Regions from separate parts of the Homo sapiens genome. Here region 2 is linked to region 1. The links come from fine-mapping of genetic effects on gene expression. A gene starts in region 1. The other region holds a variant in brackets. All regions are shown on one strand. Distances are from middle to middle. Region 1 holds the start of SLC9A3-OT1 (SLC9A3 3' UTR overlapping transcript 1). Region 2 has its middle 20 kb from the start of CEP72-DT.

Region 1 (8,387 bases):
CCCTCAGCCTAGAGGGTGCCCTCCTGGTCCCCTCATGTCTGACATCCCCTCAGCCTAGAGGGCGCCCTCCTGATCCCCTCATGTCTGACATCCCCTCAGCCTGGAGGGCGCCCTCCTGGTCCCCTCGTATCTGACATCCCCTCAGCCTGGAGGGCGCCCTCCTGGTCCCCTCCTGTCTGACATCCCCTCAGCCTGGAGGGCGCCCTCCTGATCCCCTCCTGTCTGACATCCCCTCAGCCTGGAGGGCGCCCTCCTGGTCCCCTCGTATCTGACATCCCCTCAGCCTGGAGGGCGCCCTCCTGGTCCCCTCCTGTCTGACATCCCCTCAGCCTGGAGGGCGCCCTCCTGATCCCCTCCTGTCTGACATCCCCTCAGCCTGGAGGGCGCCCTCCTGGTCCCCTCGTATCTGACATCCCCTCAGCCTGGAGGGCGCCCTCCTGGTCCCCTCGTATCTGACATCCCCTCAGCCTGGAGGGCGCCCTCCTGGTCCCCTCGTATCTGACATCCCCTCAGCCTGGAGGGCGCCCTCCTGGTCCCCTCCTGTCTGACATCCCCTCAGCCTGGAGGGCGCCCTCCTGGTCCCCTCCTGTCTGACATCCCCTCAGCCTGGAGGGCGCCCTCCTGGTCCCCTCCTGTCTGACATCCCCTCAGCCTGGAGGGCGCCCTCCTGGTCCCCTCCTGTCTGACATCCCCTCAGCCTGGAGGGTGCCCTCCTGGTCCCCTCCTGTTTGACATCCCCAGAGTTACTCCTTGGGTCCTTTGAGAGATGAGACACCAGCTGCACCCAGCAAGCCCTGTCCCCACCCCCAGGTGAGCAGACCTCTGGCACCGGGTGTTGCCAGCCAAGTCAGCCATACCTGGTAGACGAGCAATGGCAGGAGTGTAAATTTTGGTAAAAGTAAATATGAAAGTGAATATTTACTTGGAGTACACTTCAAGACCCGCGAATCATGCTTTCCCTGATAGAGAATCCTTTAAATTCTCTTTTCTAAAATGTACCCATCTCTCTACAGCATCTGCCTTCAATGGTAGCATCATTTTGCACGTTAATCTTTAATTTTTTTCCAAAGCTAATCAAGGCATTACCCCGGAGGCCGGGCGCAGTGGCTCACGCCTGTAATCCCAACACTTTGGGAGGCCAAGGTGGGTGGATCATTTGAGATCAGGAGTTTGCAAAGACCAGCCTGGCCAACATGGTGAAACCCCATCTCTACTAAAAATACAAAAATTAGCCAGGTGTGGTGGTGCATGCCTGTAATTCCAGCTACTTGGGAGGCTGAGGCAGAATTGCTTGAACCCCGGAGGCGGAGGTTGCAGTGAGCCGAGATTTCACCACTGCACTCCAGCCTGGGCAACGGAGCGAGACTCCGTCTCAAAGGAAGGGGGGAATTACCCAGGATGAGCAGGGAGTCCTGGGTCCTGGTGCTCAGAGGGGCAGACCCCTGTGCTCTCTTAATTTACAGAAAAGTATTGATTTGGTTGAGTGAGTGAAAGGCATTGACCTTCATTCCTCCTCTCGCCTGTGTATACAGCGCTTCGTTCCCTCCATCCCTGTCTGTCTCAGAGCCCCAGGGACTCGCAGATGGGCGAGGTGGGGGTGTCAGCGGGCCCTTCTGTCCCTGTGAGGACCCCACAAGACTGGCCCATGGGCCCCAGGCAGTGCAGGTGGGAGAGGCGGGGGTGTCAGCGGGCCCTTCTGTCCCTGTGAGGACCTCACAAGGCTGGCCCACGGGCCCCATGCAGTGCAGGTGGGAGAGGTGGGAGTGTCAGCAGACCCATCTGTTCCTGTGAGTACCCCACAAGGCTGGCCCGTGGGCCCCGTGCAGTGCAGGTGGGAGAGGTGGGGGTGTCAGCGGGGCCATCTGTTCCTGTGAGGGCCTCCCATGGCTGCCCATGGGCCGCAGGTACTCCAGCCTGAGGACACGCTTTGCTCTCAAGACGTTTTTGAGATGGCAGAGTTGACATTTTGCTTTTATTTCATCCTCACAAGATGTGAAAAATTCACAAATGGGACTTCTTGAAAGAATCAAAACTTGAGAAGTAACTGAGAAGTAGAAGCAGCTCTTAACAAGCATCAGGGGCTCAGAAGAGGTAGCTCTTCCCAGGGCATCCAGCGGGCGAGCTGTTCCATGTGCCTCTGAACCCAGCTTCCCACTTAGCAGCAGGTCTTGAGTGCACCTGGCATACAGTAAGTGCTCAGTAAATGCATATGAATTAGAATTCGTAGTGTTCACAGTCATTAGAGTGTCCCTTATAAGAATGAAAAATGCATTTATTTTCCCACTGAGAGGGAATTCTTGTTACTTCTGGAATGAGTGCCCAGGGCGAATGGTGGTGAGTGTGCAGCCCTCACTGGTGTTTTGCTCTGATTCTGTGTGAGGGTCACCGCTGGGACCCACGGTCACTGGTCACATCCTCCTCACGGGTGCCTGCAATGACAGGCCTCCGCAGGGGGCTCTGACCCCATCTGTCTGCACCGGAGGGGCTGTGCTCAGATCCAGGGGTCGCGCCACAGCTGTGTCCAGTGGCTTCCTCACACCAGCTAGGAAGGGCAGCAACAGCACGTGCACGCACACACGCACACAACGCGCACACACACGCATGTGTCAGTGCTAATTTTTGGGCAGAGCGATGTCTGCCTACAGGAGACGTCTCCTTAAATTCTCATAGGTGGATATTTCTCTTTTATAAACAAAGTTTGCACCCAAAATGCCTTGAAATGTTTTTAATAGAATTGGTCTAGTAATCGTTCAGGATTTCGGTGATGGGCCCTCCCTGTCTGGACACTGCCAACCCACAGCTGGAGGGGCACTTAAGGCACGTCATTTTGTGATTAGAATTACACGAAATTTGATTAATATTATAGCTGCAAAATTAACATACACAATTTTCACTCATAATTTAAAATATTTTGATGAAATTCTTTGCTTTCACAATAGAAGATCAATGGTACACAGTATATTGAACTCTGTAACAAAATTATTTTTGAGAAAATACAGAAGTGAGAAATAGTGATTTCCTCAATTTGTTTATAGTCTATCACAAAGTAGGCCAAAGTTCAGTATTAAATAGATATCCTAATAAAAGTTTTTACAAGTTTTCCTAAGGAAATACATTCATAAGACTGTTTACCTTCTGTTTGACAGCAGTGACAGGAACGTGGGGATCCCCACTCATGACGAGTCCCTAGCACTCAGCCCCTGGCACCCACAGCCCCGGCGCGCTCCGTCACCTGGTAGGGAGCAGCCTGGGCTGCCGTGAGTGAGGTGTTCTCACTCTGGTTCCGTGTTTGTGTTTAGCCTGTGCAATTCTCGTCAACACAGAACACCTGCCTGCCCACCCCCGGTGCTGAAGACCGACCAGTCAAGGAGGTGTTGGTGGGAGTGTTGTGTTCACCATGTGGAGATCAGGCGGCGATTACCGCATCTTCTTTGCTGACTTTGGTAACCGGGTGTCCAGGGAGGAGCGATCGGGAGTGGCCAAGCAGTTGCCTGGACTCAGCTTCTGACTCTGCAGCTGGGAGTCAGATGCAGGCCCAAGGGTCCAGGGGAGTTGTTCAGCGCCTGGAATCGCCATGCATTGCGCGGTGGACCGCACGACGCTCCTGCTCTGTTCTCCCAGGCACAGACAGGCACTTGGAAGGCAGCTTTGCTCCTCTGGCCACCCGGAAACCTCCCAGCAGTTCAGATGGGACAAACTGGGGGCCTGTCAGAACAGCCACTTGTGCCGGGAAGGCCAGGCCCCGGCCTGCTCCGATGAACGTCAGGACGGTGGCTGCAGCAGGGAACCAGGGCTGGCCTTGGATCTGTCCAGTAGGGTCACTGACTGGGCAGGGCTTGCTGCATAGAGGATGGCTGCATTTTGTGCTCAGAGTTGGTTGAAATGGCTACGAAGTGTGGAGAATAACCACTGAATCCCAAAAAGTCACTGCGCTTGATCTGATCCAAGTAACAGTGACTGCAGTTAGGGTCGAGAGCTTCTCCGAAGCAGCGGTCATGCAGGCTTTTGTGTGGCTGACGCTTCCCTTTTTCACAACAGTAAAAAGCTATCAATGGGAAATTGTGGACTTTTCCCACCAGGGACTCAATGGGGACTCAATGTGCAATATTCAGTCAACATAAAACTCTTTAAGAACTCCTCCTGACTGGTGACTGTCAACACTTGATCTGAAACGTGAATAGTTTAATTTTCCTGAGCAAGGAGCTGCGAGTCTAGCTTTAGAAAAGCCCCTAGGAGTGTCCACCTCCACCACTTCCACCGTGCAGGCAGGTTTCAGGTGGGTTGGACCCTGTGGGACTTGCCGTCTGAGGGATGGATGGACTCCGAGCACCCTCCCCGGCTCAGCACCCGCGGCCTCCGCCCACTCAATGGACTGTGCCTCCCAGAGCTTGGGCTGGATGGTCTCCCTGCAGAGGACCAGGAGCTCTGTCCAAGGCCTCGCCCTGGGACGCTGGAAGGGGTGGGAAGGGTCAGGGGTCCGGGGTCTAGGACAGGCTCAGGGGTCTCAGCAGGTTCTCCTTGGAGGGCCTGAGCCTGGTAGGGGGGCGGTGCCCTGGGCCCCTCCATGCCCCCTGGTTTGTTAAGGGGGACAGAGCAGCTGCTGGGCCCCACCATCCACTTAAGGACTGGCCGTGATTCTTGGCAAGCTCCGCCCGCCAGGCCACCTCTCACCCAGCCAGGGCACCCCGGGCGACCTCCGCGCCAGGTGCGACAGCTCAGGCCGGAGACCTCGTCTGTGGGGACGGGCCGTGTCCGGGGCCGCCACCCTGAGACCGGGCGCGGGCAGGACGGAACCTGGGGGGGAAACGGGGCAGGTACTGGCTTTAGGAGTCTAAATCCCCAAACGCTGAGCAGACGGAAGACGTTCCTGCCACTTTACCTGCAGTTCAAAGACCTGGCGAGGGCCTGGAAACGGCGCTCGGCCCAGGCCGCTTGCGGGCGCTGGGCCTGCAGCCGCTGCAGGTCGGGCCCTGAGTCCTGGCGCTCGGGAGGTCCCTGAGTCGGTCCCCGAGTCAGTCCCCGGGCGCGGGGCTCGGTTGGGGGGGCCCGGAACCTTGGGCTGGTTTCACGCAAATCCGTTTGGGGCGAGCCTCGGTTTCCCGGCAGCGGTGGGAAAGGGCGCGAGCGGCCAGCCATGGCGCGCGGACCCTTCCCGCCGGCGGCGTCACAGCGGCGTCTCCTCCTGCTCCAGCGCGTGCGGCGGTGCGTGGCACGAGGGCGGCAGCGACGCCAGCTTCAGCAGCGCGGGGCGGCGGCGCGCGCGAGGCCGCTGGAACGAGCGCCGGCTGTGCACGCGGCGCGCCGCCGCCGAACGCGCGTGCGCACTCGGCAGCCCTCGGCGCTCCGGCCCCGCCCCCGGCGCAGGCCCCGCCCCCGGCTCGCCCTCGGGCGGCTCTGCGGGCGCAGGCGCGGCACTCTCGGAGTTCTGCGCAGGCGCTGGCGTGGGCGAGGCGGGGCTCGGGGCTCGCGGTCGCTGTAGCCGCGCGGGGATCTGGGGTTTCTCTGGGACAGCGGCGGCGGCGGTGGGCGGACCGTGGCGCGGGGACGAGCGGCCGGTTAGCGGCGTGTCGGAGCCGGTGTCACCTGCGGGAGAGGAAGGCGTGAGCGGCGCGCGGAGCCCGGGCGCTGGGGCGGGAGGGGCGTCCCCGGGGGCCTCAGCTGTCCCCGAGCCCGGCGGCTCTCGCCTCCCCTCCCGCGGCGCACCCCAGGCTCGGCGTCCGCTGGGGCCTCCTCCCAGGACCCGGGTTCGCGGGGCAGAGGCGGAAGCAGCAACAGCGAAGCCCCAGCCCGGCCCCGCCACGTCCCCCCGCCGGGGGTCCCGGGACAGCGGCCTCCTCGGCGCAGGAAGGTCCCGCCCCAGGCCCTGCAGCGCGGGAGGTCAAGGTCCCCAAGGGGACCTGCTTCCTCCATCTCAAACCGCCCTGGCGTCCCCCGGGTGCCTCCCAGGCCCCCAGAGGGAGCTCAGAAAGCCCAGACCCCACGGCCCGCCCCTCTCCCTGCTCTGAGCTGGAGGCAGAGTCCGGGTCTGCGGGGCCGGCCCTCCCTGTATCCCTGTGAGAGGGTCGGGGACCCGGGGCGTCTGTCTGGCTTCCCCCAGCCCTGCTCTCAGCTCCCTGGGAGCGCAGGATTTGGACTCGCGGACTAGCTTTCGGAGCCACCTAAAGGAAATCTCAGGCGGCCCTAGTGCCCTCAGCTCCGTGGGAGCAGCAGAGACGCCAGAGTATCTCTGTCCGGGCTCCTGAGGGAGGTGCGGCCAGCAGGGCGCTAGAGGAGGAAGAGGGGCTGCTGGAGAGAGAGAGCGCGCCAGGTTCAGGTCCAGGGAGGAGAGAGAGCGAGCGCGCGAGGCGGAGACCTGGAGGGAGAGGAGCTGCGGAGAGGGGTTAGGCGGGGAGGGAGAGAGAGAACCAGGTTCCGGTCCAGGGAGGAGAGAGACAGCGCGCGCGAGGCGGAGACCTGGAGGAGAGGAGCTGCGGAGAGGGGTTAGGCGGGGAGAGAGAGAGAGCGAGCCAGGTTCAGGTCCAGGGAGGAGAGAGACAGCGCGCGCGAGGCGGAGACCTGGAGGGAGAGGAGCTGCGGAGAGGGGTTAGGCGGGGAGGGAGAGAGAGAACCAGGTTCAGGTCCAGGGAGGAGAGAGACAGCGCGCGCGAGGCGGAGACCTGGAGGAGAGGAGCTGCGGAGAGGGGTTAGGCGGGGAGAGAGAGAGAGCGAGCCAGGTTCAGGTCCAGGGAGGAGAGAGACAGCGCGCGCGAGGCGGAGACCTGGAGGGAGAGGAGCTGCGGAGAGGGGTTAGGCGGGGAGGGAGAGAGCCAGGTTCAGGTCCAGGGAGGAGAGAGACAGCGCGCGCGAGGCGGAGACCTGGAGGGAGAGGAGCTGCGGAGAGGGGTTAGGCGGGGAGAGAGAGAGCGAGCCAGGTTCAGGTCCAGGGAGGAGAGAGACAGCGCGCGCGAGGCGGAGACCTGGAGGGAGAGGAGCTGCGGAGAGGGGTTAGGCGGGGAGGGAGAGAGACAGCGCGCGCGAGGCGGAGACCTGGAGGGAGAGGAGCTGCGGAGAGGGGTTAGGCGGCGGGAGGCCCGGGAGCGTTACATGTGTGTGGACTCGGGGAGGGCGGCGGGGGGCCGCTCCTCGGGGCCGTCTGCCTGCAGGAAGGAGTCCACGGACTTGCTGCTGAGGCGGAAGGGCATCAGGCGGCAGAAGGTGCCGGGAGAGTAGGGAATCTGCGTGCGGGCCCTCTGCGAGGGGACCACCGTCTCCCCGGGAGACAGCCAGGGCGGCAGCCTGGCCAGGAGGCTGCGGTCCAGGGCCTCGTCCGGAGAAAACACAGGGTTGTCAATTCCTAGGAGAGAGGGCAGCGGCTAGTCAGCCTTCGGAGAGCCCCACGGCGGCAGGGGAGACCTCGCCGGGGCCGTCACCTGCTGGGTGCCTTGGAAAGTTAGGGTCACCGGGAAGGTTAGGGTCACGTGCCTTTCAGGTTGCGGGCCCTTCCCCCACATCCATGACCCCACACGCCACAGGCAGCACAGGTAACGTCTCGCTTCCCTCAAGACATACCCCACCTGCTCCCTGCCCGGCCCACGTCTCCCCGGACAGCAGCCTCCGAGTTGGTTGAGGGGGCACTCAGTGGGTGCCAAGCAGGGCCCTTGAGAACCCACAGGAGACCCCACCCCCCCAGGTCCCAGTGCCCCTGGTCCAATGACCGAGCTCCCTCCTGGGGCGGCAGGAGCCACCCCTCCCTTAGCCACGACGCCTGTGCCCCGTCCCCACCTGCAGGGGAGTCGGACGCTGTGTCCTTGGTGACACTAGCCAGGAACTCGATCCCCCCACTCATCTCCTCATCATAGTTGGGGGGCTCCTCGGTGTCTGAAAGTTCCAAGTCTGGGGAAGACAGGTTGGGGTGAGGACTGGGGTCACTGGGGGGCTGTCCTCACAGCCCAGTCAGCAGTGTCCATCAGCTCTGTGCACAGAGGTGCAGGCAGTCGGGACCCACAGAGAGGAGGGCTAAACCGCAGGGCTGGAGGAGGGACCCCACTTAGAGGGCAGTGTCCCTGGAACCCCATCCTGGGTGGGTCTGCAGCTGGGGCCCTGACCATGCCTCCCCTGCCTGGGTGGCTGGAGGGTCCCCAGAGGGGAAGGTCCTGAGAGGGGAGGTTCCCGAGCCGGGAGGGCTGGGGCTGGGAGGTGGTGGCTCCCAGTCCCAGCGTTCCTGCAGGGCCCCCAGCGCACCTTTCTCCTTGATGGTGAAATTCTGCGCAGGGCTCTCCATGGGCAGCTTCCCATTGGGGATGCTGCTGTTTCTCTGCGGAGCAAACGTGAAGCTGCTCACACCCCGACACAGCCACACCCAGCCCTGACTGCCCCCGCTCCAGGCCCCAGCCCCGCCAAGCCTCCTG
Region 2 (8,910 bases), 120 kb after region 1:
TTCCATGCGTGGAGGTGGTGTGTTTTATGTGTGGAGATGGCGTGTTCCATACGTGGAGATGGCATGTTCCATATGTGGAGGTTGCATGTTCCATGCCAGGAGGTGGTGTGTTCTATATGTGGAGGTTGCATGTTCCATGCCAGGAGGTGGTGTGTTCCATATGTGGAGGATCTGTGTTCCACATGTGGAGGTGGTGTGTTCCATGCCTGGAGGTGGCATGTTCCATGCCTGGAGGTGATGTGTTCCATATGTGGAAGTTGTGTGTTCCATGCATGGAAGTGGCGTATTCCATAGTGGTCTTGCATGCAGAGCTCTGCACAGTTCACACAGAGGCTCAGGTGCATCCCTTGCTGATTGGCTCATCCAGACAAAGCAGTGAAAACCAAGCCCTGGATTTATTAAGAGGGTGGGAGTCCGGGGTGTGGCACAGACCCCTCCGGTCTCGGCCTGTCTGTCCTTCCAACATTTGTCAGGCAGCAGACATGGCTGTTATGGGAAATATGGAAGCGTTGTCTTGCAGCCATCGTGTCCAGTAATGACCTCATTCCATCGCAAATTGGTGGAGAACATGCTCCCGTGAGTTGCCCCAGAGCACAGCGGTGGGTACAGCTGAGATTCTAGCCTGGTTTTACATCTTCCCCCAGCGGCCAAGCCTCCTGATACTAATTGTCATTTTTGTCAATTGTTTTACATTGTTTTTATGGACACATTATTCACACACGTGTCTTCCTGCAGAACACCTGCCAGTGCTGTGCTGTGTTTCTGCAACACGTCAAAATGCTGTGTGGGTGAAAATGAAGTGGTGACAAGGATGTTCTGTTGACGTTTCCCGTGACATCTTTGGGGGAGGGCAGAGGTGTGAGGCCTTCTGTGTCTGTCGAGGCATTAGGGTCAGAAATGATGATGATGTTTTCAGTCTATAACCTTGAAATAAAAATGAACAAGGAATCATACCTATCCCCAAATCCACAGAATGCCCCAGGCTGCTCCCGGCACAGGTGCAGAGCAGAGCCCAGGCTGTGCCTCATTCTGTGAGCAGCAGCTCTGGGGTGGCAATGGACCCACAGCCCATCCAGGCTGTAATGCGGAGGGTGTGCGTTATTCTTGGCACCTGCCATGCCCACAACCGTCAGAACATTGGGGGCTCATCCTGCAGCTCACCAGCTCTGGAATTTTCTGCCCCGAAAGAGAAAAAGCATAACTCCACACTGTCTGACACTGAAGCTTCCAGGAAGGCATCCTCAGAAGTGCCAGGCTCAGCAGATGCTTTCTCAACCGTGAATTCGAGCCAGGTGTTGTCCCAATTTCAGGACGCTGTGATCTATGTCCTTGTCTTGCAGTGACACCATTGCCTTGCTAAGCCATAAATAATGTGATCAGGAACACATTTTGGCTTTGAAGACAGAAGGTCCCAAACCATCATTCAAATGCAAGAGGGAGAGGAAGGCATCAGCTGCCCACATAGTTCACGCCTCCACCTTGGCTGCACCCTAACCATCCCATTGAGAAGTGTATCCATTATCCATGGCTGTGTAACAAATCCCCACAGCTTAGCAGCTTGAGCAACAAGCACTCATCATCTCACAGTTTCTGTGGGTGAGGAAGCTGGGAGTGGTGAGTTGGGTGGTTCTGTCTCAGGGGCTGTCACATGGCTGCTGTCAAGCTCATGCCTGGGGCTGTGGTAATTTGAAGGCTCAACTGGGGCTGCAGATCTGCTTTCAAGGTCTCTCAAATGAGTTTGGCAGGAGGTGCTATTAAAATATTGAAAGTAATCACAAAAACTGCAATTACTTTTGCACCAACCTAATAGTTGCTCTCCTTAAGTATCTCCTAGAGCCAGTGATGTGAGAGTGAGCACTTGGAATGGAGCCGTGGTCTTCCACAGCCTGATCTCAGAGGTGACACCCACAACATCTGCCACTGTCATTTGGCCTGGGTCCAACCTAGTGTGATGAGAAGTGAATACCAGGAGCCAGGGAGGCATGGTCAGGTTGTGGCACCATGGAGGCTGCTAGCACCAAAGTGGGCATATTCAAATGCACTTCCTCTTGTAGTGGTTTGTTCTCATGCTGCTATAAAGAACTGCCTGAGACTTGGTAATTTATGAAGGAAAGAGGTTTAATTGACTCACAGTTTCACAAGGCTGAGGAGGCCTCAGGAAACTTACAATCATGGTGGAAGGGGAAGCAAACATGTCCTTCTTCACATGGCAGCAGCAAGAAGAAGTGCAGAGTGAAGGGGGAAGCCCTTTGTAAAACCATCAGATCTTGTGAAAATCACTCACTATCATGAGAACAGCATGAGGGTAACTGTCCCCATGATTCAATGACTTCCCACCAGGTCCCTCCCATGACATGTGGGGATTATGGGAACTACAATTCAAGATGAGATTTAGGTGGGGACACAGCCAAACCATATCACTTCTGTTGTAAACATTTACTGGCTGCCTGATGTATTTCTAATGTGTTGAATGCTATAGCAAAAAGTCATGTATCTGACAAGACCTGAACAATTACACTGTTTAATTTTCCAATTTTGCTGTGGAAGGAACTTGCCTAAATGAGAGGGACAGAGACTTGCCCAAGATACAAGACATAATTAGCTAGTGATAGAGTTGTTATCAGGATTTTTGTCTCTAATTCCCATTTCTATTTTAGTCCACAAAATTCCAAAGGAAAAAGCACAATCCTTGCCTTTAAGAGTCCAAAAATATTCTTAGGGTGATAAATGCTTTTTAAATAAGTTAATGAATCATGGTCATAGTATTTTCCATAAAATTCCAGAGTTTCCTGTCACCAAACAAGGGAGTGTTAGGTATAATTAGATATGTTCCCCTGGTATCCTAAAAGAATTTTCTTATTAAGAATGTTGATGTGTTGTCATGAATATATTATTTATATTGGAAAATATAGATTGCCATTTTAGTCAATGACAGGTTGTCATGAACCCCACATACCAGTGAGGGCACAATCAAGAGACAGAAACCACAGCAATTATTTAAACACAGAAAACTGAAATGAAGGATTGTTAACCAGGCTTGGAGTTTAGCAGGCAACTGAAAGATATCTTGAAGGTAGAGGCTACTAGAGGAAGCTACTACACCTGTGGCTGGAGGAACAAAGGGGAAATATTGGAACTACTACTATTTTAAAATCAAGACCTCTGAGGAGGGGTACCTGCCAGCTTTAGCTGTTGTCTTGGGGCTCAGAGGGGGGGCCCATGACAGGTGGAGGTTGCATTTCATCCATGTCTCCACGGGAGGAGACGTAAAACTGACCATTTTCTGAAAAGATCGTTTTCTTCCCCCTACTGCTTTGCCAGCATCTTTGTGGTTCTCTCAGTTTTGTTTTCTTTTGTCTTTGTTATAAAAATAGCTTTATTTTAACTTTGTTCTTGAATGATATTTTTACTTGGAGTAATATCCTAGACTGGGAGTTATTTTTTGTTTCTTACACCATTTAAAGATTTTATTGCATTGTCCTCTGGCTTCCATTGTTTCTGCTGAGAAGTTGGATGTCTATCAAATTTTTGCTCCTTCTAAAGTAATCTTACTTTGTATGCTGGTTGCTTTTATGATGTTTATTTTTATTTTGGTTTTCTGTAGTTCACTACAGTGTGTCTAACATGTGGATTTCTATTTATGTTATCTATTTCACTGGAGATTTTTCCCTTCAAATCTTGTATCATTTTTTAAAAATTTCATTAGTTGGACTTCACCTTTCTCTAGTAACTCCTTGATTAGCTTAATAATAGACCTTTTGAATTCTTTTTCTGGCACTTCAGGGATTTCTTATTGGTTTGGATCCATTGCTGGTGAGCTAGCATGCACTTTTGGGGGTACTAAAGAATGTTGTTTTGTCATATTACTGGAATTGTTTTTCTGCTTCCTTCTCATTTGGTAGACTATGTCAGAGGGAAGATCTGGGTCTCAAGGGCTGCTGTTCAGATTCTTTTGTCCCACAGGGTGTTCCCTTGAGGTGGTGCTCTCCCCCTTCCTCTAGCGATGGGGCTTCCTGAGGGCCGAACTGCAGTAATTGTTTTGCTCTTCTTGGTCTAGCCACCCAGTGGAGCTACTGGGCTCCAGGCTGGTACAGGGGAGTGTCTGCACAGAGTCCTGTGACGTGCTCTGTCTTCAGGTCTCTCAGCCATGGATACCAGCACCTGCTCTGGTGGAGGTGTCAGGGGAGTGAAGTGGACTCTGAGGGTCCTTGGTGGTAGCGTTGTTAAGTGCGCTGGTTTGGTATAGGTTGGCCTCCAGCCAGGAGGTGGTGCTTTCAAGAGTGCATCAGCTGAGGTTTTATAGAGAAGATACAAGCTTGCCCTAGAGCCCCCAGGAGATTATGTCCTTTGTCTTCAGCTACCAGGACAGGTAGAGAAAGACCACCAGGTGGGGGCAGGGTTAGGCATGTCCGAACTCAGCCTCTCCTTGGGTGGGGCTTGCTGCAGCTGCTGTAGGAGATGGGGCGTGGTTCCCTGGTCAATGGAGTTATGTTCCCAGAGGGATTATGGCTGCCTCTGCT[G/A]TGTCATACAGGTCGCCAGGGAAGTGTGGGGAAGCAGGCAGTTACAGGCTTCACCCCACTCCCACACAGCCAGCAAGGCCAGTCTCACTCCTGCCATTCGCCCCCACTCCCAACAGCACAAAGTCTGTCTCCGGGCAGTGGGTGAGCAGGGCTGCAAACCTGCCCCAGGCTATCTGCTTCCCAGCTGAGAAAGTAAGCAGAGTTTTAAGGCTTTGTGCCTCCCCACCTGGACACACCATTGGTCTGGGAACACTGTAACCCAGGATCAGGGACAGGGGGGTCCTGGAGTTCCCAGATGACTTGGAGTTGGGCTGCGGCCCCTGGCAGGCTGGTTGACCTCAGTTTACCTTTTATCCCCATGAAGAGCTATATAGGTTCTCTTCCCAAGCAGGGGATACAGAGCAGAAACTTTATTCCTCCTGGGTCTTTGTGCCAACACTTGTCCCCCGACCCCAAAGTACTTTCAAAAGGATGGCACTGATTTTTAGCCACTGCTCCTGAAATTGGCATGGCCCACAGAAGGCATGTCCCCAGATCCCAGGCTCACCCACCTACAATCGCATTTCTCTTGGCTGCCAGCCGGGCTTGTCTACACCCAGATCCCAGGCTCACCCACCTACAGTCGCATTTCTCTTGGGTGCCAGCCAGGCGTGTCTACACTACTTGGTTGGTTTCCAGTGCCTTCAAGCAGATATGGTTCTATTTTGTCCAAGTTTTCCAGTTATCCTTGGCATCTGGGGGGGTATAGGTGATCTAGACTTCCATTTTTGGAAGTGGAATTTCCTGGGTTGATTTCTTTTCCTGTTTAATATTTAAAGATGCACTGTGGGCCATGTGCGGTGGCTCACACTTATAATCCCAGCACTTTGGGTGGCCGATGTAGGTGGATCACCTGAGGTCAGGAGTTTGAGACCAGCCTGGCCATCATGGTGAAACCCCGTCTCTACTAAAAATACAAAAATTAGCCAGGTGTGGTGGCGTGTGCCTGTAATTCCAGCTACTCAGGAGGCTGAGGCAGGAGGATCACTTGAACCAGGTAGGTGGAGTTTGTAGTGAGCTGAGATTACACCACTGCACTCCAGCCTGGGTGACAGCGAGACTCCGTCTCAAAAACAACAACAAAAACAAAAAGACACACTGTGCATGTCCCTGGCCCAGGGCAGAAGTCACAGCCCAGCCTGTTGCCATTAGACACTCTGTTCCGTGACATGTCCCACGAGTCCCACACGTTGCCGAGGCCAGATCTTTACTGACCACTGGAGCCACCTTATGGCCTCAGGATGTGGCTTTGCTGGCATTCCTGTGGAAGAGGCACTGCCCCATCCATGTGCCACCCTGTGCTGTGATGGGGAGCCTGGCTGCTGCACTCACACTCGGGGTGGAAAGCAAAGCCCGACCCCTAATTTAGCCAGTGGGACTCAGGAGCAGGCCATTCACTTGTTCAATTCTGTCCATACTGAAGAGACGCCGGGCCCCTGGCAAGAGGCTACAGAGCCTCTTGCTTCCCTCAGAACCTCTCCTGGGGATAAGTTCCTGTTGTCCCTAAGTCAGCAATGAGGCTGAACCAAAAAGCAATGTGGCCAGGCCAGGGAAACCTTCTCTTTACGGCCAAGAAGTGGGGACCTGCATCTTTGGCCAAAGCAGACTTATGGGATTTAAGGACAAAGAGGCTAAATACACAAAGAAAAGGTGTGTGTACGTGTTTCCTAGGACTTCTGTAACAAATTATTGCACACCGCATGGCTGGAAACACTGGAAGTGTATTCTGTCACTGTTTCAGAGATGAGACGTGTAATTCAAGGTGTCCACAGGACCATGCACCCTCCAAAGGCTCCAGGGAGGAACTTTCCTTGCCTCTTTCCCTTTCTGGTGTTGTCCACAATTCTGGGTTGTCCCTGGCTTGTGACAACATCACACTATGCTGGCCTTCCTTCTCTGTGTGTCTGTGTGTCCAAATTTCTCTCTCTTATAAGGGTGTCATCATTAGGCTCACTCCAGTCCAGTGTGACCTCATCTTATTTAATGACATCTGCAAAGACCTGATTTCCAAATAAGGCACTGGGTGTTGGGATTTGGACATACCTTCTGAGGGGGAACTCAATCGTACCCACAACAGTGTGCTTCCTCTTTTGGATACACTGGGGATGGTTCCCTCTCTCTGGACCTGATACTGCTCTTTCCCCAAAGGCCACTGATTAGTCAACATGCTCCCTGGGGCTCATGTCAGCCAAGGAGGGCAATTGATTTCCAACCACCTGTCAACATCTGCTTTACCCCCTGGGCTGAGAGCTGAGTTTCCCACAGTGACAAGTAGGTGATAAAAGACAGGTGTCCAAGTGTTTCCTGGAGAAAAAGCACTGGTTTAACTTATTTAATTAGTTCCAGAGAAGCAGTCAGACAGAAATGACACATCCCCTACAGGGCACAATAATCCCGGCTGCAGTTTCTCATCAGATGCTGTGCAGACCAGGATGTGGAAGAACATTGAAAACAAGAAACCAAAGGAAGCACCAAGCCAGAGTTGTGCATCTGTGAGAATTTCAGAAATGGAGGAAAAATCGATGCAAGAATACCCTTCAGAAATGAAAAAATCGACCGAAAATACCCTTCAGAAATGAATTAAAAATCAACACGAGAATACCCTTCAGAAATGAAGGAAAAATCAATGCGAGAACACCCTTTGGAAACGAAGGAAAAATCGATGCGAGAACACCCTTCAGAAATGAAAAATCAACGTGAGAACACCCTTCGGAAATGAAGGAAAAGTCGACGTGAGAACACCCTTCGGAAATGAAGGAAAAATCGACGCGAGAACACCCTTCAGAAATGAAGAAAAGTCGACGCGAGAACACCCTTCGGAAACGAAAGAAAAATCGATGCGAGAACACCCTTCGGAAACGAAGGAAAAATCGACGCGAGAACACCCTTCGGAAATGAAAGAAAAATTGATGATCTCCAGTGAGGACGCACTAAGAGAATTTGTTGCCGGCACACCTGCTTTAAAAGATGCCAAAGCAAGTTCTTCAGCTTGAGGGAAGATACAGAGGAAAACCCACAACCCCAAGAAGGAAGAAAGGGCAAGACAAGCAGTAAATGTCCAAGGAAACACAGCACACTATTGTTCTCCTCTTTACCCCAAGTGACTTTTCTTGCTCTGAATCTATTTTGTCTCACATGAATAGAGCTGTTTGAGGATTTTTGTGTAACTGATGTTGGCCTGATAGCTCTTTTCCCATCCTTTGACTGTGAAACAGTCTGTATCATTACATTGAAAATGAGTTTCTTGTAGACAGCATGTAGATGAGTCTTTAAAGTACATATGATGGTTGAAAGCAACAATTAACAACATTGCTTGGTTGAATTTTCAATATGTGCAGGTGCAATACGATGACTGTGACAAAGGGCACAGTGAAGGGGCCTTGGTGGGGACAAGGTCCCAGCATTCCAGCCAGAAGTGGTAAAATATTAATTCTGCATAGACTGGCAAGGTGAGGAGGAGTTAGAATGTATATTGCAATCCTTAGAATGACAATACACAGAGATAGAATTCAAGAAACCATTAGATAAATCAAAATGAAATACCACAAAATATCCCAATAATCCAAAAGAAGACATGCAAAGGGGAAAAGGAGAAAAAATCAGAGGTGCCAAATAGAGGACATGCAAGAAATGCTGGACCTAAATTCAGACACATCAGTAATGAATATAAATGTAGATGATCTAAACATACTGATTAAAGGCAGAAATTATCAGACTGGATAAAGGCAAGTCTTATCTACAGGCTGTCTATAAAAACCCTCTTTAAATACAAAATATAGGCAGATTAAACATAAAAGGATAGAAAAAGATATGCCAAGCAAACACCAATTAAAAAAACTGGAGTGACAAAGTAGATTTCAGAGCAAGGAAAATTCCTAAGAGTAAAGAGGGACGTTGCATAATGACAAAGGATCAACTCCCCAAGAAGACCTAGTAATCCTAAACACATATGCACCCAACGATAGGGCTTCCAAACACACAAGACAAAGACGATAGAGCTGCCTGAAAGGGAACAGGCAGCTCCATACTGGAATTGGTGACCCCAACATTCCCATCTCAGTTGGTTAGGGCTGCCATGTCAAAATACCACAGACTGGGGCCTTAAAGGGCAAAAATTTGTTTTCTCACCATTCTGGAAGCTGGAGGACCAAGATGAAGGCTGTTGGGGTTGACTTCTCAGTGTTCTCACATGGTATTTTTTTGTGCTGGTGTGGAGAGTGAATGATTCCTGGCTTCTTTCCATCTTCTTGTAAGGACATAAGTCCTATTGAATCGGACCCCCTCATATGACTTCTTGCAACCATAATCACCTCCTTACAGGCCCTGTCTCTAAATACAGTTACATTGGGGG

Evidence for each region. PIP is the estimated chance that this variant, and not a neighbour inherited with it, causes the effect.
Region 2: its variant is fine-mapped to the expression of SLC9A3-OT1 in whole blood (TOPMed, PIP 0.98).

The regions. Positions count from the first base shown.
Region 1 is chr5:467,800-476,186 of GRCh38, forward strand. It overlaps SLC9A3-OT1 (SLC9A3 3' UTR overlapping transcript 1), which reads right to left and starts at 5,166. Exons shown (of 2, transcript NR_024158.1): 1 at 4,880-5,166; 2 at 2,711-4,166. It overlaps SLC9A3 (solute carrier family 9 member A3), which reads right to left. Exons shown (of 17, transcript NM_004174.4): 14 at 8,221-8,293; 15 at 7,762-7,872; 16 at 7,084-7,333; 17 at 2,657-5,583. The coding sequence ends at 5,580. It overlaps SLC9A3-AS1 (SLC9A3 antisense RNA 1), which reads left to right and starts at 5,437. Exons shown (of 7, transcript NR_125375.1): 1 at 5,437-5,600; 2 at 7,338-7,520. RefSeq lists enhancers at 4,118-4,760, 4,761-5,401, 7,329-7,969 and silencers at 4,645-4,774, 5,135-5,204, 5,325-6,144.
Region 2 is chr5:587,802-596,711 of GRCh38, forward strand. No RefSeq gene overlaps it. Among named protein-coding and RNA genes, the nearest start is that of CEP72-DT, 20 kb to the right of the region's middle. The variant G/A (reference allele first, on the strand shown) is at 4,521.